Linked DNA regions of Homo sapiens. The protein of the gene in region 1 interacts with the protein of each later gene in a pairwise test. Each region holds a gene or a part of one and is shown on either strand. Other genes may lie near its edges. The genes, in order: LMO3, ACTMAP, GRB10, BEND7, CTSO, CDYL2 and MAP3K9.

The links.
Region 2: the proteins of LMO3 (region 1) and ACTMAP interact in binary tests that used the Homo sapiens proteins (3 or more experiments, as listed by UniProt).
Region 3: the proteins of LMO3 (region 1) and GRB10 interact in binary tests that used the Homo sapiens proteins (3 or more experiments, as listed by UniProt).
Region 4: the proteins of LMO3 (region 1) and BEND7 interact in binary tests that used the Homo sapiens proteins (3 or more experiments, as listed by UniProt).
Region 5: the proteins of LMO3 (region 1) and CTSO interact in binary tests that used the Homo sapiens proteins (3 or more experiments, as listed by UniProt).
Region 6: the proteins of LMO3 (region 1) and CDYL2 interact in binary tests that used the Homo sapiens proteins (3 or more experiments, as listed by UniProt).
Region 7: the proteins of LMO3 (region 1) and MAP3K9 interact in binary tests that used the Homo sapiens proteins (3 or more experiments, as listed by UniProt).

The regions. Positions count from the first base shown.
Region 1 is NC_000012.12:16,557,663-16,561,162, reverse strand, and holds part of LMO3 (LIM domain only protein 3), read left to right. Parts: intron 1-624; coding exon 625-750; intron 751-3,500.
Region 2 is NC_000019.10:40,740,478-40,743,977, forward strand, and holds the end of ACTMAP (actin maturation protease), read right to left. Parts: coding exon of another isoform or gene 3,499-3,500; coding exon 3,428-3,498; intron 2,294-3,427; coding exon 1,956-2,293; 3' UTR 1,713-1,955; coding exon of another isoform or gene 1,596-1,712; 3' UTR 1,388-1,595; coding exon of another isoform or gene 1,228-1,387; 3' UTR 963-1,227; coding exon of another isoform or gene 743-962; 3' UTR 384-742; downstream 1-383. UniProt on the Homo sapiens protein: Actin maturation protease that specifically mediates the cleavage of immature acetylated N-terminal actin, thereby contributing to actin maturation.
Region 3 is NC_000007.14:50,667,897-50,671,396, forward strand, and holds part of GRB10 (growth factor receptor-bound protein 10), read right to left. Parts: intron 1,968-3,500; coding exon 1,826-1,967; intron 1-1,825.
Region 4 is NC_000010.11:13,498,015-13,501,514, forward strand, and holds part of BEND7 (BEN domain-containing protein 7), read right to left. Parts: intron 2,666-3,500; exon of another isoform or gene 2,496-2,665; intron 2,067-2,495; coding exon 1,764-2,066; coding exon of another isoform or gene 1,725-1,763; intron 1-1,724.
Region 5 is NC_000004.12:155,943,867-155,947,366, forward strand, and holds part of CTSO (cathepsin O preproprotein), read right to left. Parts: intron 1-3,500. UniProt on the Homo sapiens protein: Proteolytic enzyme possibly involved in normal cellular protein degradation and turnover.
Region 6 is NC_000016.10:80,682,599-80,686,098, forward strand, and holds part of CDYL2 (chromodomain Y-like protein 2), read right to left. Parts: intron 2,532-3,500; coding exon 1,940-2,531; intron 1-1,939.
Region 7 is NC_000014.9:70,740,014-70,743,513, forward strand, and holds part of MAP3K9 (mitogen-activated protein kinase kinase kinase 9), read right to left. Parts: intron 2,579-3,500; coding exon 2,338-2,578; intron 152-2,337; coding exon 29-151; coding exon of another isoform or gene 1-28. UniProt on the Homo sapiens protein: Serine/threonine kinase which acts as an essential component of the MAP kinase signal transduction pathway. Plays an important role in the cascades of cellular responses evoked by changes in the environment.

The DNA.
Region 1 (3,500 bases):
GACAGTATATTATCCTTCAATTTCTGGTCTAGCTATATATAGTTTACAGCCTCATTTACTTTAATGTGCTACTTGAATAACATAATCATAGCTATAACTATGGTATAGAGCCATAAGGTGCATGCATGCGCCTCTATGTTTTTTGACTATTTAAATGGCTTCTTCATAAATGTATTTTTAATAATAATGGCAAACCTTTTAGTAACTAAATGTCAAAAAGTAGTGAATCATTCATTAGTTGGTTCCTTTCCCAACTAAAATGTTTAATATATAACATTAAGAGCAAAGTTATATTGCTTTTATATTTTCTATATACTCTAACCCAGAGATTTTTGCTATGAATTCACCCCCATTGACTTCTGTTTATGTGCAGTTACGTAAGCTTCCTAATGTATTTGTCTTTTCCTTTTCTTCTCAAACAAGATGTGATTTTCATCAAGGAAGGTCAACGGAGAATATATTGCAGAAGAATATTTATGCATACACCTAGGATAAAATCCACTTGTGTACATCATAAAGCATTGTGTATTGTAGCTTTACAGAGTATATTAACATCATCTCTCTTCACGATCTCAGATTTCTCTGTAAGAGTTTGTAAAAAAAAAAAAATGTTTCTTATTCTAGGCTCTTTGGTGTAACGGGAAACTGCGCTGCCTGTAGTAAGCTCATCCCTGCCTTTGAGATGGTGATGCGTGCCAAGGACAATGTTTACCACCTGGACTGCTTTGCATGTCAGCTTTGTAATCAGAGGTAAGCAGGTCTCTTTTTGGTCTCTAAGAAATGGTTAACCTCTCTGTGCTGGCTATTTATTTAATAGGTGGAAATTATATTCATACATTTAAAGCAATCAATCTCAGCGTTTTTCTGTTCTGTAAACTTTAATCCCATGCCAGAGACAAGCTACTAAGGAGAAGAAAGGTCTTAAGACTTACTTCTACCTGAAAGAAAAGCATCATATAAGAGCAAGTAACAGAAAATGGAAACACTACCGTAAACTCTGACTTCTTTTACTCATTCCTTCTTTTATTATTTTCCTGTCTTTTTAAAAGTAGTTTTAAATATCTACTTTTTTATACTACTTATGTGAGTAAATAAATTGGCAATGAAGCAAATATACAGGAATTTGTTGCAGGTATTTTATATTCTTATTATTTTTTATATTTTAAATTCCTTATCCCTCATGTTTTTGTTTTTGCTTTTTTAAATACAAGGTCTGGTTCTGTCACCCAGCCTAGAGCGCAGTGGCACTAACATGGCTCATGCAGCCTCAACTTCTGTGCTCAAGCAATCCTCCTGCCTCAGCCTCCCGAGTAGCTGGGAGTACAGGTGTGCACTCCCATGCCTGGCTAATTTTTTTTTTTTTTCATTTTTTATAGAGATGATGGAGTTTCACTATGTTACCCAGGCTGGTCTCAAACTCCTGGCCTCAAGCAATCCTCCCACCTCCACCTCCCAAAGTGCAGGGATTATAGGCATGAGCCACCACCCCCACCCAATCTAGCTGTTTACCTTAAATTTTAACCCTGTCCTATATGTACTTTTGCAGTTACTTCAAATATCTTTGAGAATCAGTCCAGATATAGCTAATAATTAAACAATTATTATCATTGGAGAGGAGCATTTGAAAAAGTGTTGAACAGGGAACCTGGAAACCTAAATTCTAATATGGGCTCTGCCACTAATAAGCTGTGCGATCTTAAACCAAACAAACACCTTCCCTCTCTGGACCTCAGGTTTTTCATTTGTAACATATGAAGCTGGATTAGTTCATCTCAGAGAATTCTTTCAGCTGAAAAGTATTATCACTTAATTCCATTTTTTCTTATTGAAAGTTATATTTTTTATTTCTGTGAAAACTATATACTACTGGCACCTGTTTTATATGATAAATGGAGAGGATTTTAGAACATTAAAATGTACGTATTAAAAATACAACATTTCAAAAATTAGAACACTTGATAGATTTTAATGAAAATGAATTCACTGACTTTCTGTGAGAACACCTGGCAGAGTATATAATCAATAAATATTAGTTGCATCAAGTTCTCAGTTATTGTAATTTACTCTGAAAGGTACTATTTGATGCAGAATCTTCTTATGAGACCCTGTAGAATAGTAGAAAGAATGTGACATTTCTAGTGAGAACGGGATTCAAATTTCAGCACCACCATATATTAGCTGATATATTAGCTGTGTGATCTTGAGTATGTTACTTAATCTCTCTGAATTTGATTCCCACACCCATAAAATAGAAACACTAACACCTCTCTTGCAGAGTTTGAAACTTAAATGAAATAATTAATTTATATTAAATGTCAGGAACACAACAGGTTCTCAAAAGTTAGTTATCTTTATAATTTACCAAATAATATTCCATTAACTTGACTTTCCCACAAGGCATGTATCACAATAGTGTTTCTTGCTAAATGTAGATATTCAGATTGTTGCCTAATGTACCTTATAATGTAATAGTTACCCAGACAGTCATGTAAGATGTTATCTTACAATGTCTTGACTCTTCCCAGCAAGTACTGAGAATCAAAGTAAGTTCATTCAGTCTAGGGTAACATTTAGACGAAAATAAATTGGCAAATGCACATGTTTTTGGTAGGGATAAGGATATACAAACACAAACATTCCCACATCCATACAGACACCTTTATGTGCATGTATATATGTATTTTATACATTTTAAAGGTGTCTTAGTAGTAAATTTAGAATACTTTTGTTGACTTGTCATGTTGATCAACTAATAGCAGCCAGTAACCATGCAGTTCCCATTATGGAATCATAAAGTCATTGCTTTTCTACTTATAAAAGATTACATATTCATAGTAGGAAATTTAGAAAATAGAAAATGATAAAAACAAGACATTGTCCCATGTCTCATTCTTCTAAAAGAAAACATTTTAATATTTTGATATATAGCCAGCCATACATGTTCCTATGTCTATAGGACAAATGACATTGTATAAATATTACACTCACATTTAAGCAAATTAAAGTTACAAGGGAGAATCCTAATGTTTGATATTTGGACTTTTTCACTCAATTTATATTTTGTGCCTTTTTTACCTGCCATTAAAAATTCTTTTAAGATATTTTAAGCTTTTCTGAGTTCAGCTTTATGGACAGAGCTTCACATATGTCTTCTATCATCAGATATATAAGTTGTATCTTCAAAAGTTTTTGTGCTGTAAATATTATCAGTATTATCAATATAAAAATGGACCTTATGAGACCCTGTAGAATAGTAGAAAGAATGTGACATTTATAGTGAGAAGAGATTCAGATTTCAGCACCACCATATAGTAGCTGATATATTAACTGTGTGATCTTGAGTATGTTACTTAATCTCTCTGAATTTGATTCCCACACCTACAAAATAGAAACACTAATACCTCTCTTGCAGAGTCTGAAACTTCAATAAAATAATTTATGTTAAATGTCAGGAACACAACTGGTTCTCAAAAGTTAGTTATTTTTATAATTTACCAAAT
Region 2 (3,500 bases), on another chromosome or scaffold:
CCTGCAGGGAAAAGCGCTGGGTGTGTGTCAGAGGCGCAGGGTGGGTGGGGCTGCCAGCCAGGACCCTGGCCTGCAGCCTGATCCAAACCAAAGACTGTAGAACCCTGGGGTGTGGCTAACGGCCCCTCCAGCACCCATAGCCAGGTCTTCCTGGCCCTTGAGGCTGGGCTGGCGGACAGGCACCTACCTCTTCCTTAAGCTGAAGCTCCCACACTGTCTTCCAGGGCTGAGGAGATGCTCTCCTTTTCTACTGACCATCTTGATACTTATTTATACGAGAGGCAGTTGCTGGACGGGGTAGTACTGGGAAGCAGGAGGCAGAATGGCTCTGCTGAGCCTCCTACCCATGACAACACCCCAATAAACAGAACATTCAGAGCCAATGTCGTAGAGCTTTTTATTTTGCATCTGGAGTGTATTTGGACACGTGGGCTGGGTGGGGTAACAGGATAATGAGCAGTTTGGGAAAGAGGCAGGCTCCAAGCAGGCTGGTTCACTCACTTGGCAGTCACTGGGCGGCTATTCTTGTGCCTGGATGTGTTACAATGCAGGGGACACAGTGGTGAGCAAGGCTGCTCCAAGCCCTGGCTGGGATGGGGGATGCACAGACAGGCTGATCAGGGCTGGGATGGTGGACACGCATCCTCTTTACCCTGATCACTGGTTAGAAATACTGCACTGTGGCCGGGCTCAGTGGCTCACACCTGTAATCCCAGCACTTTGGGAGGCCGAGGCGGGTGGATTACTCAAGGTCAGGAGTTCGAGACCAGCCTGGCCAACATGGCAAAGCCCCGTCTCTACTAAAAATACAAAAAATTAGCCAGGCATGGTGGTGCATGCCTGTAATCCCAGTTACTTGGGGGGCTGAGGCAGGAGAATCACTTGAACCTGGGAAGTGGAGGCTGGAGTGAGCTGAGATCACGCCACCGCACTCCAGCCTGGACGACAGAACGAGACTCCATCTAAAAAAAAAAAAAGCAACAGTGCTCTGTAGTTTCCCTAAATGAGATGGGCTCAGTTAGGGACAGAGAAGTGATCCAGACAGGCCTGTTCCTCCTTCAGAGTGGAGGGGTCAGGTATTCATGAAGCTAGTAATCACACACACTCACTAGAAGTTTGTATAAGTGGACAGGAAAGTTTGTGGTCAGCACCATAATGTTCAGGGAGCCAGGAGACAGCCTGGCTGAGATACTGACTACCTAGCTTGAATCCTGACCTTGCCATGTGCTAGTCATGTGACCTCAGGCCAGTGATTCCACTTCTCCAGGCCTCAGTCTTGCCATCTGTCAAATCGGGTCCATCTAGCACCCCCCTTACAGGGTTGCCAGATCTGCTAACACAGGTAGAGGGGCTGGCACAGGTAACTGCTCCCAGATGGGCTTTAAAACTGTGAAGACATGAGGTGGGGGAGGGGTGTCTTGACTGGGGCTGCAGGACTCTTCCCTGAGGTAGTGATACCTGAGCCCCAATGGAAAAGTTAAGGAGTGATCCGCAGCAGAGGGCTGGGGGTGGGACTCAATGATCCGGGGATTTGAACAACACTTCAGGGATCTAAAAGGCCAGTATGACTAGTAGGTGGCAAGCATGAGGAAGACCTTGGGCTAAGGAGGGGTGAGCTGAGGCTGACGCAGTTCAGTGTCCCTGTCCTGTGAGAAGCAGAGGGCCCAGGCAGGAGGTTCCTCAAATGTCTAGTGAGATGACAGAGGCGGCCCCTAGTGAGAAACAGACGATGCGACATTCAGATGGAATAGGCAGGCCGCAGGGTCCGGGCTGTTGTCAATCTCTCCCTAGAGGGACCAGCTGGTGCTCAATACTGCAGGGGGTGGCCCTGATGAAGGAGGACTGGAGACCCCTGAGACCTAGCTTCAATCTTGTCGCCATCACACAGTGGGAGAAGTGTAGGCACACTTCAAATGGTTACCGAGCTAGGCTGCAGCCTGAGACCGCAGCCGCAGCTAATGGCTGCAGTCCTGTGGTGTGAGGAGCAGGGCCTGGCCACAGAGGCCAGCCCGTACCCCACCCACGGGCACCACGTACACCCGGCCGTCAGTGGCCCGTGAGGGCGAGAAGTCCGTCAGCTGCAGGTTGCTCTCCCGGACCTGGTCGTAGTCCCACAGCTGATAGTGCCAACTCTTGCCCTGCTTGGACAGCAGGTAGACAGCTCCCGGGGAGCCCTCCTCTGGCAGGGATGGTGGTTGGCAGGGCGTGCCCAGCACTGGGTGGAACAGGCCCGGCAGCTCAGGGTCCTCAGTGTAGCCGAGACTGGGCACAGCCCGAACACCCAGCAGGACCCCTGGGGGAGAGGAGAAGGTGGTGAGTGGCAGTGACTGAGCCAGGACCAGGTGCTGGGGCTCACTAAGTTCCGCCCTCTCCCGGCCCTCCAGGGTGGGTGCAGCTGCCATTCCTAGGTTACGGTGACGTTAGTGGTGGCCAGTGGGTTGGGATTTGGACCCACCGTGGCACCCGGCTCCAAAGCTGTAGGTGTTTTAAGTCTTGCCTCATCTGGCCTGAGCACAGGGGAGGTGGGGAGGCAGCATGAGATGAAGCAAATGCCGTCACCCGGTCATCCTCAGCTCTTTAGGGAAGAGGCTCCAAGAGGAGCTGTCAAGACCACAAAGCCATGAAGAAGCTGAGCGGAGCCTCCCCCGGACCTCCTGACGCGGACCAACCTGGCCTTCTTTCTTTCAGGCAGGGGGAATGATGAAAACGGTGCTGGTAATACTTACAGAGACATGTCACACGCCAAGCCCTGTTCTATTTTTTTTTTTTTTTTGAGATGGAGTCTTGCTCTGTCACCCAGGTTGGAGTGCAGTGGCACGATCTCAGCTCACTGCAACCTCCGCCTCCCAGGTCCAAGCAATTTTCCTGCTTCAGCCTCCCAAGTAGCTAGGATTTCAGGCATACACCACCACGCCTGGCTAATTTTTGTATTTTTAGTAGAGACAGGGTATCACCATGTTGGCCAGGCTGGTCTCAAACTCCTGACCTCAAGCGATCCACCCACCTTGGCCTCCCGAAGTGCTGGGATTACAGGCGTGAGCCACCGCGCCTGGCCAAGCCTTGTTCTAAGAGTGCTGAGTGCTCTGCCTACAAGGCAGCCTTATGAGGTGGGTACTGTTACCCCCAATTTCCAGATGGGGAAAGGAGCTGTCCAGAGAGGTGATGATACCTGCCCAGAGTCACAGAGCCTAGAAGAGGCTGTGCCAGGCCTGGAGCCCAGACGGTCTGATCCTGAAATCTGTGCTCTGAGCTTCTGTTTGTAGAAGCTCCAACTGGCAGACACCTGGGGCCCAGCCTGCCCGGTGCTAATGCTAAGTGCCCAGCCTGGCTGGGGAGGCACCAGCACAAGGGGTGAGAATGTCAGGAGGATTAATGGAGGCCGGGGAGACCCAGGTTGAGGGGTGCAGACAAAGGAGGGGGAACCCACCTGCACTCACCGCCCAGTGTGCCTTGTGGCCCTTCCTCTGACACGGCTCATGGTTGAAGTCCTCGTCGTAGCT
Region 3 (3,500 bases), on another chromosome or scaffold:
TTTCTTGCCAAAGGCTGAGAGAGCCAGATAATATTTTCATGGTCTTATTTTAGAATGGGTAGCTCTGTAAACAACCTCAGTGACAAAACCCACAGACAGCTTGTCTGGATCCTTATTTGAAGCAGAAGGTCACCAGCGAGGTAGACATCCCAGATGCACTTTAGACATGTGACAAAGTGCACAAGCCCAGCCAGTGCTGGCTCCCAGATGAGGGACACTTACCTCACCTTCTAAGTTTTGATAGTGCCATAATGCAGCCTGCTCCGGGGGCCTGAGGTCAGAACGGGACCCACACTTGGGAGCCAGCGGGTATTGGAAAAAGGTCTCTCTCTCAAGAGGACAGACCTTGCATGGCACAGGACAGGCAGATTTGCAGAGAAAGGGATGGCTGGCCTGTCTTGCTTGAGAACAGCAAAGGTAGGGAAGTGAGAGCAAGTAGGGAGAAGAGATGATTCAAGTAGAAGGGCAAAATGACTTCTAAATATGCATTTAGCAGAAGGAAAGTCAAAGTCCCGGGAAGCCAATCAGCACAGTGGCTGCAATCACAGGCTCCGATTCTGAGGCCGGGTCACACTCAGCCGCACCATCAGGTCTCAGCCACACTCAGCTCAGCTGCTTACAGGGGCCTCCCTTCCCTCAACTGTGGAACAGAGGGAACATGCGTACTTAATTCATACGGGATGGCATGAGGAGTAAATGAACATATAAATAAACAAAAAATAAACATATCCACCACTTACGACAAGGCCTGGCACACAGAAATCCCTCACTCCATAAACATCAGATGGCGCAGTTGTTCTAATGATCACCTCCACCCCTAGGGGTCTTCCTCCAGAGGCTGCAGCCCATCCTGGCTCACAGCCCTGCCAACCGGTGGGGAGGAACTTTCAACCCCTTTCTCTGCCAGTTTCTCTGCTAAGCTGACTTGTTGGCTGTTTGACCTTGGACACATTACTGAAATGCTCTGTGCCTCAGTTTCCTCATATGGGGACAATGGTTGTGTCCTATCTACTTCATGGATCTACTTTAAGTAGAAACTACAAGTTCAAAAAGGAGGTTATTGCCCTGCGGGTCCAATGGAAACTCTTCTGCTTTCGGCAGATCATATTCAAAGTCAGGACTACAAGACAGAAACTCTTCAACTCCTGTGTACTGACATCCAGGTGCCCGGGTGAGCCCAGCATTTTCACACCTATTATTGAGCCAGTGGTGAAACTTTTTCAAAGAACTAAGATTCATCTTTAAACATCAAATCATTGTTATTATTTGCCATTTTTTATGAGACTTTTTCTAAAATATAAAGATAAAACAGAGTTTTGATCAATAATGAAAAGAGGTTTAATTGGTTCATGGTTCTGCAGCCTGTACAAGAATCATGGTGCGGGCATGTGCTCGGCTTCTGATGAGGACTTAGGAGCTTACAATCATGCCAGAAGGCAAAGCAGGAACTGGCGTCTCGCACAGCAGGAGTGGGAGCAAGGGGAGGAGATGACACGCACTTTTAAACAACCAGATCTCGTGAGAACTTACTATTGTGAGGACAGCACCAAGCCATGAGGAATCTACCCCTAAGATCCAATCACCTCCCACCAGGCCCTGCCTCCAAAATTGGGGATTACAATTCCACATGGGATTTGGAGGGGACAACATCCAAACTGTATCGGCCTCATAGGACAACAAGTACTGTGACAACAAGAAAAGAACTGAGAGAGAAGATCCCAGGACTTCCCGCCCTTCTTCCCAAAGTAATAATCTGGCACATCTGTGCAGATCCCAATAATCTGGCATATCCCTCAGCCTGGGCTCCAGCCAGGGGCACACTCACCTGCTTTGCGGCGGCCTGGCTCGGAGGTAAAGAACCCGGCGTGAGCACAGGGGGGCTCCCAGGGCCACAGAGTTCAGGAAAAGGATTGGGGATGGCCGGCAGAGATGAGGTTCTAAACTGCTGGTCTTCCTCCTGAAGGCGCCTGGAAGGCAGGGATAAGTGCCTGTTAAAAGCTGCCATTCCCCACATGACCCAGCCTTACCACTGTGGTGATACACCCAGAAAGCAGGACACAGGGCTTCTAGGAGTCACTGGCATGCCCACGTTCACAGTGGCATCCTTCACAAAAGCCAAAAAGTAGAGGCATCCCAAGGGTCTGCAGATGGATGAATGGATGAACAATATGTGGCATATCCATACCATGGAACACTACTCAGCCATGAAAAAGGAAGCACATTCTGACACAGGCTACGACACGGATGAACCCTGAAGACATTATGCAGAGTCAAACACACCAGTCACAAAACCAGAGACACTGTGTGATTTCACCCAGTGAGGTAGGTAGTGTATTCAAACCCATAGAAAATAGAAGGGTGGCTGCCAGGGGACTAAGGGGAGGGCAATGGGGAATCGCTGTTTATTGGGGACAGAGTTTCAGTTTCATAAGATGAGAAAGTTCTGGAGATTGTACAACCATTGTGAGTGTGCATTAATACTACCGAACTGTACCCTGAAAAAAACAGTTAATATGGTAAATTTTATGTTACATGTATTTTACTAAAACGAAAACTTTAAAAAAATTACAAGTTGTCATTCTCAGACCCAAAGGGTATTGGGTATCAATTCTCTTCTTCATTAGGCATCGGGGGCGGGGGGCGGGGTGCCGAAGTTTTGTTGTCCTGGGTGCGTGCTCATCTCAGGCAGCATTCAGTGCCTGACATGGCATCAGCTCCAAATACCTCATCCGTTTGATCAGTGAATACCTGATGTGTGAAAGTTTTCTGAATATGAGCATTTTCATGAGAACCAAGTGTTTTTCAATGTCCTTGAAATGAGCATTAATCTAATCAAATGAAAATACAAGAAAAGGCTGTGTGTTCTCATCTGAATTATGCAATGGATGGTTACTTATATAAAAAGGTTGTTGACACTGAATTAACTGGAAATTATAGCTTCATGTATCTGTCCTCGCAAAGCCTGTGTCCACATTAGAAACACACCTTGGAAACACACGCTGAATCCACACACCACCTCTACTTTCCTGGCACATCTCCAGGGGCATCTGTTCCCTCCTCCGAAAAATGCACAACCCACTTGTCACACAACTATGCAACACACACACAGTATGACGAATCAGAAGCAACTGTGAACAGCAGAGAAATCAAGTTCAAAGTCAAAGCGAATGTCAAGTGTCTGGCACCTCCCCTCTGTAGAGTAACTTCTGGCCCACACCTCCAGGGCACTCCTGGACACACAGCCTCCTCCACCCTTCCTGAGGCCACGCGGCCCTGTCTGCAGCCTCCTACCTTCAAGGAGAGGGGAGCAAACCTCACATTATCTTCACTCGGCATTTCCAATCCCTCCCCATGTTTAAACATACCTCAGAAACCCCCATCATAGGCTGTGTCCTCAAGTAATTTTTTTGACAATTTTTACGATTTCACAAAATCAACAATCCGTTAGCTTTCCCAGGAGATTTGCCACTACAGAAACACATTTTGTGACTGTATTACTT
Region 4 (3,500 bases), on another chromosome or scaffold:
AATAATCCCAATGAAATACCAAAGTAGTCACAGTTATATGTAATATATTTCTTTTTCTTTTTTTTTTTTTTTTTTTTTTGAGACAGGGTCTCGCTCTGCTGCACAGGCTGGAGTGCACTGGTATGATCTTGGTTCACTGCAACCCCTGCCTCCCAGGCTCAAGCGCTTCTCATGCCTCAGCCCCCCAAGTAGCTGGGACTACATGCATGCGCTACCACGCCCGGCTAATTTTTGTATTTTTTAGTAGTGATGGGGTTTCGCCATGTTGGCCAGGCTGGTCTCGAACTCCTGGCCTCAAGCAATCCACTCATCTCGGCCTCCCAAAGCGTTAGGACTACAGGCACGAGCCACCACGCCTAGCCATATTTCTATTGAAAACATAAAATATCTATTTTCAAACTGATATGGGGGAATTTATGTTTGTAACTTTTACTAACTTCATACTTTTCAAAGTAAATCCACTGTCCCTACTGTATACTGGGAAACAGAACACTGTTCACCCAAAACTTACTGATGTGGGGTTTATTAACTTCATACATACCTAAGGGTATTTTATTTCTCTTATTGTCTCTTCCATGGTAGTAGAGTTAGAAAGGTCTTAAAGAATATTTCTAGTCACTATTCTAAGTACCATCTTTTATCATTTTTAGAAGACAAAACCAACCCTTTTCAGCTTGTTATAAATCATTTTCTAATTTTAAAGAGAACTGACTTTTTATTTTTATGGAGGAGTCTTTAAAGAGCTGTGTCCCTCTAACCTGGAGGCATGCCAGCATTGGAACTTTGATACTGGCTTATGTACTACTGAGAGGCAGAGAAGACACCCATACATTTCTGGGGTCCTTCGCTGTCTCATCAATGTCTCAGGATGGCTTTTCATGCCTCTGAACCACAAATTGTGTTTTTAAAAAAAGTCAAAACAGTTCTCTTTTTCTTGAAGGATATTGTGAAATGAAAATGAATGGAAAAAAATCCTTAACTTCTTAAGGAAACTGAAAATGCTTTCTTACCTTTTTCTTGTTCTCTTTGTGAAAACTATAGATCTGCACATCTCTACAGAGTTTATAGAACAAATATTATAGCATCCAGTGTGGCCGGATAGAAAACTAATATGACCACAAAAAGCATCAGGTTTTTCTCCTTAAGCTTTGAAAAAAAATTGTCATTTGATTCTTTTCTTAACAATTAGGAAACTTAAATTAAGAAAATTTTACTTTAAAGGAATACTTTCCATTGCTAATGAAGCATGTTACAAAATATGGATCACTGGGTTCAGTACTGACGTGGGATGCTGGGTTATCGGCCCCCCACCCCTGTCCGCCCCCGCCTTTATCTGGGACTCTTCTGATAATGAGTAAGGTGAAGGAGTAACCAAGAGGATATGTTAGTAACACACCATAGGACCAGGAAGCTTCTTTTAAAGACAGTGGGGAGCTCTTTCTGCCCTAATGTTCAGGTTTTTTTTGTGACAATAATATCCATACATGGGCACAAAATGATCGCTTTAACCTCTTAAAGGGCTAAAATCTCTACCAGGAAATCTTCACTTATAACATAGAACCCCCTGTCTTTCCTAATTCTCAATTCTGTTTTTTAATAGTCTTCAACTCTTTCCTTTGTGTCTCCCTGTCTTTTAAAGTAACTCAGCAAAGGCAGGTAATTATGGGAGGGTTTAATAAATTGAACTCAACACACTGAATATTTAGAAATAGAACAGTACAAACCCCCATGAGAGCCTTCTGAATGTTTGTTGACAACCATACCATTGGAGCTCGTGGTAGGGTGGGGCTGGCTTTGGAAGGTTCTAGAACGGGTGCCATACTGCCCTGAGAACTGTCCACTCTGGGGCGGTAGCTCATTCCACACACCACGTGAAGACGGGTGGAGGCTTTGCGGGGCCTCAGCAGAGGAGTTCAAACGTGGAGGCCAGACTAAATCCAGGTCCTGGGGCTCTTCTTTTAGTTTCTCTCCTTCTTTGCCAACTCGCTGATAGATCCGCCCAGTGCTGTCGTTCAGCAATCTTCTCATCCCTGTAATTTGCTTTTTTATTTCCATGCTTTCATCTCCTAATGGAAACAGGGCCAAAGTTAGCACTCTAAATTAGTGAAAGAGAAAACAGTTCACTAACCAAAAAGAAGAGAAAGAAAAACAACCCTTCTTTGGAAATGGGAAAGATGACTGACTCTATGAACTTAATCTGTAAAACGCAAAGGCAGGAAAACTGACTACGGTCTGAAAAAACCCATCCTATTCCTGGTGCCTCTCATTTTAATCTCTTTCTGCAAGTCGCTTATGATGAAAGAGGTTTCTTGAGAGTGTGTCATCAGGAACAAACATGACATTCCCTCTTTGGAAGCATTTTCTGAATGAGTAGGTGATGAGGAAACAGGCTGAGACAGAAGGTCAAGGATAGAACTGGACCGCGGAACCCCTCTGCTCTGATGGGCCACAGCCACCCGTGAGGAATGGGCAGGTCACTAAAGCGCTCTGCTCACTGTCTGTCAGCTTCACCAGGCGGGGCAAGGACAAGGAAGAAAGCCTGGACTGGCAGGGACGCAGGGCTTCACTACTGACACAATGTCCTTCAGGATGACTGGCAGGGATGCAGGGCTTCACTGCTGACACAATGTCCTCCAGGATGACACGCTGCCGCTGGAGACATCACCTTCAGAGAGGACGGCCGAGGAGACAGAGAGGCGCCGAGTGTGGCAGCATGGCAAGCGAGGGGGTTTTGTCTTTCTGGCACTCTGACTCCCATCACATCAGCCTGGTGATGACCGAGGGGTCCCTGCCACTCGAGGTCACTGGCGGTACCAGCACTGGAAGGGCGGAAGTGCAACCTCCCCACCGTGCCCTCCTCCCATGCCAAACGCACTGCCACCTCCCCTGCAGCGTAACTGTGTGCGAAAGGTCACAGGCCACTTTGAAATCCCACTTCACCTACACTGACTTCTTTTTTTAAGATTTTTCTCCCGTCTCAGGACATTTTTTTAAAATGAAAGAACTTCTATACTGCACTGGGAGTACTTAATAAATATTAAAGATGTCTGTAATATTGCACAGATAGAAAATCTTTTTGGCCGGGCACAGTGGCTCACGCCTGTAATCCCAGCACTTTGGGAGGCCGAGGCGGGTAGATCACCTGAGGTCGGGAGTTCGAGACCAGCCTGACCAACATGGAGAAACCCTGTCTCTACTGAAAATACAAAATTAGCCAGGCGTGGTGGCACATGCCTGTAATCCCAGCTACTCACAAGGCTGAGCCAGGAGAACCCGGCTCACCCAGGAGGTAGAAGTTGTGGTGAGCCAAGATGGCACCATTGCATTCCAGCCTAGGCAACAAGAGTGAAACTCCATCTCAAAAAAAAAAAAAAAAAAAAAGAAAAAGAAAATATTTTCTATCAATAATAATATCAGAGGATGCTGATATCTGTTAGGAGCTATTTCAAACACACTATCTTCTTAAACTGTGCATCAGCCAGTATCTTCATAAAGATGAA
Region 5 (3,500 bases), on another chromosome or scaffold:
GACCATTATTTACTGATTTCTCAACTTTGAATTTTGTGACAATTTATCTTAAGCTTATCTTTTATATATAAACATGCTTCAATTTCGTAATACTAACCAATTACATAGAATAAATAAAATTTCAGGGGGCTATCATTTGGTACCTTTCCAACCCTAGCGCTTCTACATATTTGTCTATGTACTTATGTGTTTATTGTGTGTCTGTATCAAAAACCTATAAGCAAAATGATGACTGCTTATATGTCTTATTCCTTATGGTGAGACACTCACTTAGCACATGGCTGACACACAATAGATCCTTGATAAGTGTTTGTTGTTGAATAAATAGATAAGTGACATTTTCCATATCATGCCCTTAATAACTTTAAGCTGTTTATTTTTAAGTAAATTATTGCTGGAAGTTGTCATAATCTTATTTTTTTTCCTTTTGTGCATACCTAGGAAGATTGCTAATCAACAAATTAATAAAGTTTTTGAGGTACTTTAAAATAATCTTGATGAAGCAAGGCTTTCAATATAACCTGGATATATAAATGTAAAAATAGAACTAGAATACAAGGTAATTCTGTATATGGCAAATGACAAATATAAGCCAGAGACTATTAACTGCTAAGGAATTCAGAGGATTCATTCATTCAATAAGTACTGCCTGGCCATCTTTGTGAGCTGGAGTAGTCAGGAAGGCACTGAAAATGTAGGATGTTAAGAATGCACAGGAGAGAATGTGGCAGCCATGAGAATGTGCCTCCCAGCCTTCTTTCTATAGGGAGTTTAGCTGCTGCTAGTTGAAATCTCCATGATCACACCAAGGGAAGCCACAGTTCTTACGGGCTGCACCTAGCTCATGACTTAGTGCTAAGGCTTGCTATTTGGGAGACAAATGGGACTCCCCTGACAGCTGGTTTTTGATTAATGACTCCCTGATGGCCTTGCCAAACCAAAGTTTCCTTGGACTGTGAGACAGCATGGAACTCTTCCCCAGTCTTCCTTCCTTTTTTCCTTCACTCAGGGTCAGAATTACATTGCAATCAGATAGCTCTACCTGGACCTCTCCCTATTAGTTCACAGGAATTGCTCCTGTGATTGATTAAAAAAAAAAAAAAAAAAAGCCTGGGAGCAGTGGCTCACACCTGTCATCCCAGCACTTTGGGAGGCTGAGGTCGGTGGATCATCTGAGGTCAGGAGTTCGAGACCAGCCTCGCCAACATGGTGAAAGCCTGTCTCTACTAAAAATACAAAAATTAGCCGGGCGTGGTGGTGGGCGCCTATAATCCCAGCTACTCAGGGGGCTGAGGCAGGAGAATCGCTTGAACCTGGAAGGCGGAGGTTGCAGTGAGCCGAGATCACAGCACTGCACTCCAGCCTGGACGACAGAGCGAGCCTCCAACTCAAAAAAATAAATAAATAAATAAAAAATAAGAAAAGAATGAGAAGACATGAATAACCAATTTACCAATATTAGGAATGAAAGAAGAGCCATGATTACAGATGCTTCAGGCATTAGAAGAATAATATTTTGACAACTTTATGACAATAAATTGGCAAACTGTACAAAATGGACAAACTTTTTGCAAGGCACAGATTGCCAAAGATGAAAGGAGAAATAGAAAACTTGAGCAGCCTTTTATCAGCTAAAGGCATTAAATTTGTAAGTGAAAACTGACTCACAAAGAAAACTTCAGGCCCAGGTGGCTTTTTGGTGAACTTTATACAATGAAGAAAGAAGTAATACCAATATTATCCTTTGAGAAAATCAAGAAGAAGGGAATACGCTGCAACTTAAATAAGACCAGTGTTACCCTGATTCTAAACCAGAAAAATGTATCTAAATAAAATAGAACTACATACCAGTATCCCTCATAAATACGCTGTAGACACAAAATCCTTAACAAAATAGCAAATCAAATCTAACAATATATGTTAAGGACAATATATTGTGACCAAGTGAAGTTTATTTAGAAATGCTAGGTTGGTTTAAAATTTCAAAATCAATCATCAGTACGATACACCATATTAACAGAACAAAAAAGGAATATACCACACACACACCACACCACACCAAATGCGCACACACACACATACGCACGCACATGAGGTATAGACTGGTACGCCCTTTCAAGATCCTTAAAATTACACAAATTGTTTAATTAAGAAAATCTAATTCTAGGAATGGATTTTAGACTCTTGAGTGTAGGCAATGCTGTACGTGTGGGTTCTACACGTGTGTCTGGGAGGGGAGGCAGTAGTTGAGCCACATACTCTATTTAGTTGGAGAGCTAATGCAAGTTTATCTCACTAGATCATTTGTGACATCTACGAGAGAAACAATATATTGCCACTCAAGTTGGCAAATGCCAGATGAAACAAACTTATACATCGTTGGCAGGGAGTTCCCATGTACTTCTCTTAATTTTTGTGTTGCCTTATAAGTGTCATTTCACCATCCAAAGTTTAGGTGTTCCGGTTGTGAAGTAGTTATAATAACACCAATTTAATAATGAAATAAATGAATGTATTATTTATTTATTTTAAATATTTATGTCCCTAATTTTCAATGATGATTCCAATAACAGTTACTTGGTTTTGGTCTTGTGCCATGTGTTTGAAAAGACAAATATCTCCACATATATTTTCTATTTGTTACCACTTGATACACTGTTCTTTATGTCAGCGGCACTAGTGTCTGCAGGACTTCTGAAAATGTTGCTGTCTTCCACTTGTTCAACCAGGAGCCAACTTCTAAAAGAATTCCATTTGCTATTCTGGTGTAATGACTCCTGTCATTTCACAGCTCTCCATAGCCCATGTCAGGGCTACTCAATCTTTATACAAATTGTTGACTTCCTGCCAACAGCAAAATACTCTAAACCACTAAGTGCTCTGCTTCGTCCTCTCCCTACCACTAATCTCTACCCACTTGTTTTGATTTTGCAAAACCATTAATAACATTAAAAGTACTTCCTTGGAGGCTTCTGAACACAGCGTAATAATAATAATTATTATTATTTTGAGGCGGATTCTCGCTCTGTCGCCCAGGCGAGTGCAGTGGCGTGATCTCAGCTCACTGCAAGCTCCGCCTCCCGGGTTCACCCCATTCTCCTGCCTCAGCCTCCCGAGTAGCTGGGACTACGGGCACCCGCCACAATGCCCGGCTAATTTTTTTTGTATTTTTTTTAGTAGAGATGAGGTTTCACCGTGTTAGCCAGGATGGTCTCAATCTCCTGACCTCGTGGTCTGCCCGCCTCAGCCTCTCAGAGTGCTGGGATCACAGGCATGAGCCACTGCGCCTGGCCTCTTTTTAACTTTGCAACAATTTGAAATGTCTTACCATTGCTGTGCAATTTTTGGCTATATAATCAACCTCTCTGAGCTTTATTTCCATCAACAAATGGAGTAATACTGATCTGGAAGAATGTAAGGATGAAATAAAATAATAATTGGAAAACACTTATTACAGAGACTGGCAAAATAAATGCTCAGTTAAAATACTCTCATCCTCT
Region 6 (3,500 bases), on another chromosome or scaffold:
TCCCTCATGCTTTACTCTTGGGATTGCCCCATATGAGCAGGGCAGGGAGCTGCTAACAGCTGGAATGCAGGGAACCCCGCCAGAGCCTTGCCCCTGCACCCAAAGGGCCACAAAATCTCCCCTCGCCACCCTTCCTGAGACAGGGAACTCCGCCACCGCCAGCAGCCGTCACAGCAACATCAAACACGGGTGTTTATGCCAAGCCCCATTTACACGAGCCCACTTCTCCCCGAGAGATGAATTTCTAAAACAAACAGCTTTTACATATGTTCACAGGCACAGTCACGTCAGCGTCAGGGATCCCGAGACGGAAACGTGAGTCAGTCTGGGGCAAAGATGCTAAGTAAATCCTGTTTGGGTGAAATTCCTCTCTCTGGAGAAAGAGGAGCCTCAACACGGATTGCTCAGATTTCTCAGCAAGAGTACCTAAAGACAGCAAGCTCTTGCAGGGGAGCCAGCTCTGCACGTTCTGGACTCCAAATCTACCATCGTCACACTGAAGTGTGTTGGCCTCATCACCCCAACCTTCTGTGAGCCCTTCTAACCATTCCCCCTGCATCCAAGCATCCCGGTCTCCACACGCACCCTGGTTTCATCAGGGAATCTGATGGCCCTGCCCTGTTGGGCAATGGTTGTCCACACTCCTGTAAGATTTCTGGACATTCCAAGGCTCGGGTCTCTGGCAGCCAAAGAGACAAATGCCACCAGGTAGACACACAGGTGTCTGAGAAGTGAGGGACTGCACATAACTGGCACAAGCAGCTAACCTGAAAGACTGATGCCATGAAGGACTCAGGTAAGGGGCAATGTGACCACACAGGAAATCTCATGTTTGGGAGTATGAACTACATGGGTCATCACCTCCTGTTTCCTTAATTTTGCCTACAGAGACTTTGGAAAAAGGAGGAATTCCATAACCTAACACAACATATGCAGGCTGTGTTAGAGTAAGAGGCTGCCAATCGAAAGAATTAGTGCAGGATGAGGTCAAGACAGCATTTAGGACCCACTACAGTCTGAACATTTATGTTCTGCCAAATTTCATATGAAGAAACCTAAGCCACAACACAGTCACAGCATTAAGAGGAGGGGCCTTTAGGAGGTAATTAAGTCATAAGAGCTCCATCCTTGTGGATGGGATTAGTGGCCCTTATAAAAGAGGCTGATGGGCGCTGCCTTGCCCCTTCTATCATGTGAGGACACAGAAGGCACCAGCTAAGAGGAACAGGCCCTCACCCGATGCAGCATCTGCTGGTGCCTTCATCATGGACTTCTAGCCTTCAGAATTGTGAGAAATTAGATTTCCATTTTTCATAAATTACCCATTCTAAGGTGTTTTGTGACAGCAGCCTGAACAGACTAAGACAGGACCTAATATAGGTCAATCATCCAACCTAGAGATAGCAGAAGGACAAGAGGCTCCAGCACAGGCACTGGCGTGGTGAACTCCAAGTCCACACTGTGTCTGAGAAGACGGCACGGACCCCAACCCAGACCCTACCTCTCTGGGCTACACTGCTGGGGGCATGATGAGGCTGCAAGCAAGGGCTCTGCACTGTGCCCTGGGAGGCACTGGCCCGCTGAGGACACGTGTCTTGGGTCCTGGGGGTGAGGACTTGAGCTGCCCTCAGGGAAGTGGGTCTAGAGGGGTTACCATGGCCTTGGGTGTCTTGAAATAAGAGTCTGGAACTTTGGACCCATTCCAGACCTTGGCTGGAGCATCAGAGGCTTAGCCTCCCCACATGCATGAGGGTCTGTAACCAACATGGGCCTACGACCGAGTCCACAAAGCTCTAGGTGAGAGAGATGAAGGGGGAATTGCTGGCTAGCTAAGAGACGGGGATGGAGGTGGGGGTCTTATGTATGTCCCTAGGCTACAGGCAGAGCTCCCCTTTCGCCATGGCCAGAGCCAAACCCAAGAGAAAGAAAAGCTACAAACCGAGCCCGTTCTCCGCCAGTGTAGCGTGATTCACGTCACATTCACCCATATCTTGCTCTCCAACATGATCATTCAAATCCAAGCCAGGCTGATGGGACCCATTTCCAAAGTGCCTCTCATCCTTCTCAGAGCCGGCGTCCCCATTTTCCATCCCGTTCTGAGACTTTTTCAGGGGCATTATTTGCAAACCACTGGGGGTAGTCCTGTAAGACACCGTCTTGGTGGCCCTGTCACCTCCTGAAGAGGGCTTGCCTGAATACCCTTTTTTTGGCTTGGCCAGGGGAGGGTTAATTCGCTTCCGTTTATGGGAGGTCCCCTTGCTCTTTCCAGGATCTGAAGGTCTGTGGGACAGTTTCTCAACCGACGGGCCTCGACTGTCACGCAGCAGCTTGGAGGTACTGGACTGCTTCCCTGACTTGATCCTCTTGTCCTTGGACATGTGCAACCCATTGAATTCATCAATAAACTCCTCACAGTGCAAGAGGTGGTGCTCCGGCTCCCACGTGTCCTCGGTGCTCCCGTAGCCTTTCCATCGGATAAGATACTCCCATTTTCCTTTCTTGTTCTTCCTCTTGTCTACAATCCTTTCAACCTGCGATACAAGATGAGAGGGTCAGAAAACAGAGAGAGAGGGAGGAAAAAACTCAGTTCGAGGCAACAAGAACACCATAAAGCCTTTGGGATAGAGGCATCTACCCTAGCCAGGGGGTGAGCCACGAGCCATTCAATGCCAGAAGCCAACACTGGCAGGAGGGTTCAAGAAGGCTGGTTTATTTTACGACATCACTGGATGGAACCTAAGGCACATGCAGCCATTTCCCATGATGACGCTAGATGACACGCCCAGCTGGTGGTAGCCACATGTCCATCCAGGCTTACTTTTATTTGAAATTGCCTTGCAAGGTTTCACAAGAGATCTTTATTCTTTTCATTGCACCAAAGTAGATGCAGGCTATTAAAGACCAATTTGGTGTGAGTTCTTCATCCTTATTTATAATAAGTAACATTTATTGAGCAATTATATGGGAGGTACTATGCCAATTTATCCTTACTTATAACAATACCAATGATCATTAACATTCACTGGGTGCTTATGAGCCAGACACTATACTAAATGCTGGGCATAGACTCTCCCATCTCATTTTCTCGTGGACAAAAACTCAATGAAGTAAATATTTTTCTATCCCCAATTTACAGTCAGAGAACGAGGGCTCAGAGAGACCAAGTAACTTAACCAAGTTCCAGAATGGTAAGGGCAGAACTGGGGTTTGAACCACTCTCACCTCAGACTTATTCTCTTACTCACTAGGCCATACTAACTCTCTTAACTGCAAAAATCTTCCACAGTGACCAAAAAGGACTTGAACTGAAAATGTCCAGCTCTCCCCACACAGCTCCCCCAGCTGCAACACAGAGGCACAGCTAGGAGGCAAAGAGATAGGTAACATTTGCTGAGTACCTACTATGCACCTCACATGTCCCTGTGGGTGTACACCACTATTATTTTTCCATTTGATAGATGAAGATATTGCATATAAGGCAACTCGCCTACCATGCACAG
Region 7 (3,500 bases), on another chromosome or scaffold:
CCCCAGCTAATTTGGGAAACAGTCTCACACTGGATGGCTCGAAGGCGAGGAATGATGGTGGGGCTTGCAGGAGGACTGGAGCGGCTGTTGATAAGACTCTTCCTTTTATCCATGGTAGGGGAGGCCTGCACCGTGAACTTGTGCTGGAAATCTGCTTGGGGAAAGACAAACACGTGTATGCATTAACATTTCCCATAATTAAATTCATATAAGAAATATGACATTCCTCAGCATCCTTGAGGGACAGGCCCCAGTTTCCTGAAAAGCTCTTTGTTCACCTGGGAAATGTTCTCTTTTAGAATCATCTCTTTTTCCCAAGGGACATGGGGAGATGAACGTATAAAAAGATGGAAAATTCACTGTGCAAGTGAACTTCATCTGTGAGCTTCATAAAGCTGTCTATATAATGAATATAGTTCAAGCAGTTATGTATTAAGAATAGCTGTTTAGCTCATGAGATGTTGTTGATTATTCTAGGAAATTTAACTTAAAATTATTGGTTTCACATAATCTATTATCAGATAGATTTGGTCCTCTTTTCTCAGGGACTGAAGCAGGGACACTGATTCTTCTCACTAAGTGCAGGCACAGCAGGGTATCAATGACTAGCCCTTGTGGGAACCTAGGGCAGTGAGGGAGATGGAGCAAATGGCTCCAATTCGGACACATTCCAAAGGAAGTTACAGTACAGCATAAAGAATGTAAAACTTACAGGTCTGAATTTCTGAGTTTCAGTCTCCTCATCTATCAAAGAGGTAAAATAAACAGCTGCTGCTTGCACCTATGTCTCCCCATTAGACTGTGATCTCCCTGCAGGTGGGAACTATAGCTTTTCTATCTGCATCCTGACATGCAACAATATGCTGACACATGCTAGATGCTCAAAGGGTGCTTAAAGAGTCCATGCTGTCTGAAAAGGAAAAACAAATGTGCAGCAAGGGGACCAGCAAACACGGCTCATAAACATATTCACTCAACTGCATGGAATGAGTTCCCTTATCTGTACTTAATTAAGCCACCATTTTAGTGCTTAACATCATCTACTCCTGCCCCATTAGACCATTCTTTCTTTGTTCCTTACACTTTTTTTTTTTGAGATGGAGTTTCACTCTTGTTGCCTAGGCTGGAGTACAAGGGCGCAATCTCCGCTTACTGCAACCTCCGCCTCCCAGGTTCAAGCAATTCTCCTGCCTCAGCCTCTTGAGTAGCTGGGATTACAGGCATGTACCACCATGCCCGGCTAATTTTGTATTTTTAATAGAGACGGGGTATCTGCATGTTGGTCAGGCTGGTCTCGAACTCCTGACCTCAGATGATCCACCCGCCTCGGCCTCCCAAAGTGCTGGGATTATAGGCATGAGCCATTGCACCTGGCCTGTTCCTTACACTTCTAATAAGCCTGCTTTCTAGGGCCTCATAGACTTAGAACACAGTGAATATCTTTATCTACATCAACACACATTTTAGCATTCGGCTCCCTCCATGGATATATTACACACCACAAAGATTCTAATTAATAGTTTCATATTTCTTTATATTTTCCCCAAGGCTGCAGTACAACAAATGCATGTTTATTCAACTGATGTGTGTGTCTGAAAGGTCACATGTAAATCTTATCATGTAAATTCTCATACATTAAACCCAGTCTCAACTGCACTCAGGGGACTAATTAAAAAAACGTCAGCCAGGAGTGGTGGCTCACAACTGTAATCCCAGCACTTTGGGAGGCCAAGGTGGGTGGATCACTTGAGGGTGAAACCCTGTCTCTACTAAAAATACAAAAATCAGCTGGGCGTGGTGGCATGCGCCTGTAATCCCAGCTGCTCGGGGGCCTGGGGCAGCAGAATCACTTGAACCGGGGAGGTGGAGGTTGCAGTGAGCCAAGATCTTGTCATTGCACTCCAGCCTGGGCAACAAAAGCAAAACTCTGTCTCAAAAAAAAGAAACCTTGAGACAAGTTATTTTGCAGAGCCAAAACTTCTCGTGTCTCACACATGCACACCCTGGAATGTTTTCCCCCAACTTCATGCTTCCTTCTCCAGGTTTGCCTAAAGTGAGATGTGCCCCTGTGAGCCACCAGGCTTCTAGCAGCCTGGACCTTGCCGGGTTGTCCTCACTTCATATTCTGTGTTCACTCACATGCAACAATTTCCCTGGAGTAGGGTAGATTTTCAACATGCCAGTCTTTCCAGTGAACAGAATGGCCCATTTAAAACAGGCTGGAGTTTGAGCCCCAGGGTGTCATGTTTCCAAGCTCAGTCCCGGACTCCCTCAAACCCTCTGCCACACGAGTTCTTTGCCCTGCTCCCACTTCCCAGCCAGTCCCCGGCCACTGACCAGAAGGGAGGCTGATGCGGTTGCCATCCTTGAGCTTCAGCCGGCTCTTCCTGAACTTGCCCTTGCGTTTCTTCACCCGGGGCTTCTCCTGGCACAGCTGGTGGATGATGATGTTGAGCTCCCGTTCCAGGATGTCAATCTCCCGCTCGGCCAGCTCCTGCTCCCGACGCCGCAGCAGTTCCTCCTGGTTCTTCTGCTGCAGTGCAGCCCGCGTCAGCTCCTCCTCCCAGGTGCGAAGTTCCTGCAGGATGGGCAGAACCATCAGAGAAAAGACTGGGGTGCTCAGTGCAGAGGGGCTCTGGGGTGAGGCCTGAGAGCTCCCAGAGGGCTTATGGTGACCTGGAGAGCTCTCCTATGATGCTCAGTGAAGAGAGAGGACTCGATAGCTGGTAAATGAACATTAGACCACCTTGAATGGTGGGGAAAGGAAGGCTCAGAACAGCCATACTGACGGGACAGTCAGAGAAGATAAAGCCATAGGTCAAGCCCTAGAAATGGGGGCTAAGAGTTTCTAGTCGCTCCTTCCTTCTTCATTAAAATTGCCTGTGATTTATATATATTTATATATATATATATATATATATATAGGTTTGAATAGAAAATATAATCATGTATTTATTTACAGACTTGGTTGTACTTTACTTTCTATTTTTTGAGACAGCAACTCATTCTGTCACCCACGTTGGAGTGCAGCGGTGCGATCTCAGCCCACTGCAACCTCTGCATCCCTGATTCAAGTGATTTTCATGTCTCAGCCACCGGAGTAGCTGAGATTATAGGCATGTGCCACCAAACCTAGCTAATTTTTTTGTATTTTAGTAGAGATTAGGTTTTACCATGTTGGCCAGGCTGGTCTCAAACTCCTGGCATCAAGTGATCCATCGGCCTCAGCCTCTCAAAGTGCTAGGATAACAGGCGTGAGTCACTGCGACAAGCCAAATTTTTTCTATTATATAAAAGATGTTTTTTCACCAAATGCAATGGCAACAAAAGCCAAAATTAACAAATGGGATCTAATTAAACTAAAGAGCTTCTGCACAGCAAAAGAAACTATCATCAGAGTGAATAGGCAACCTACAGAATGGGAGAAAACTTTGCAATCTATCCATCTGACAAAGGGCTAATATCCAGAATCTACAAAGAACTTAAACAAATTTACAAGA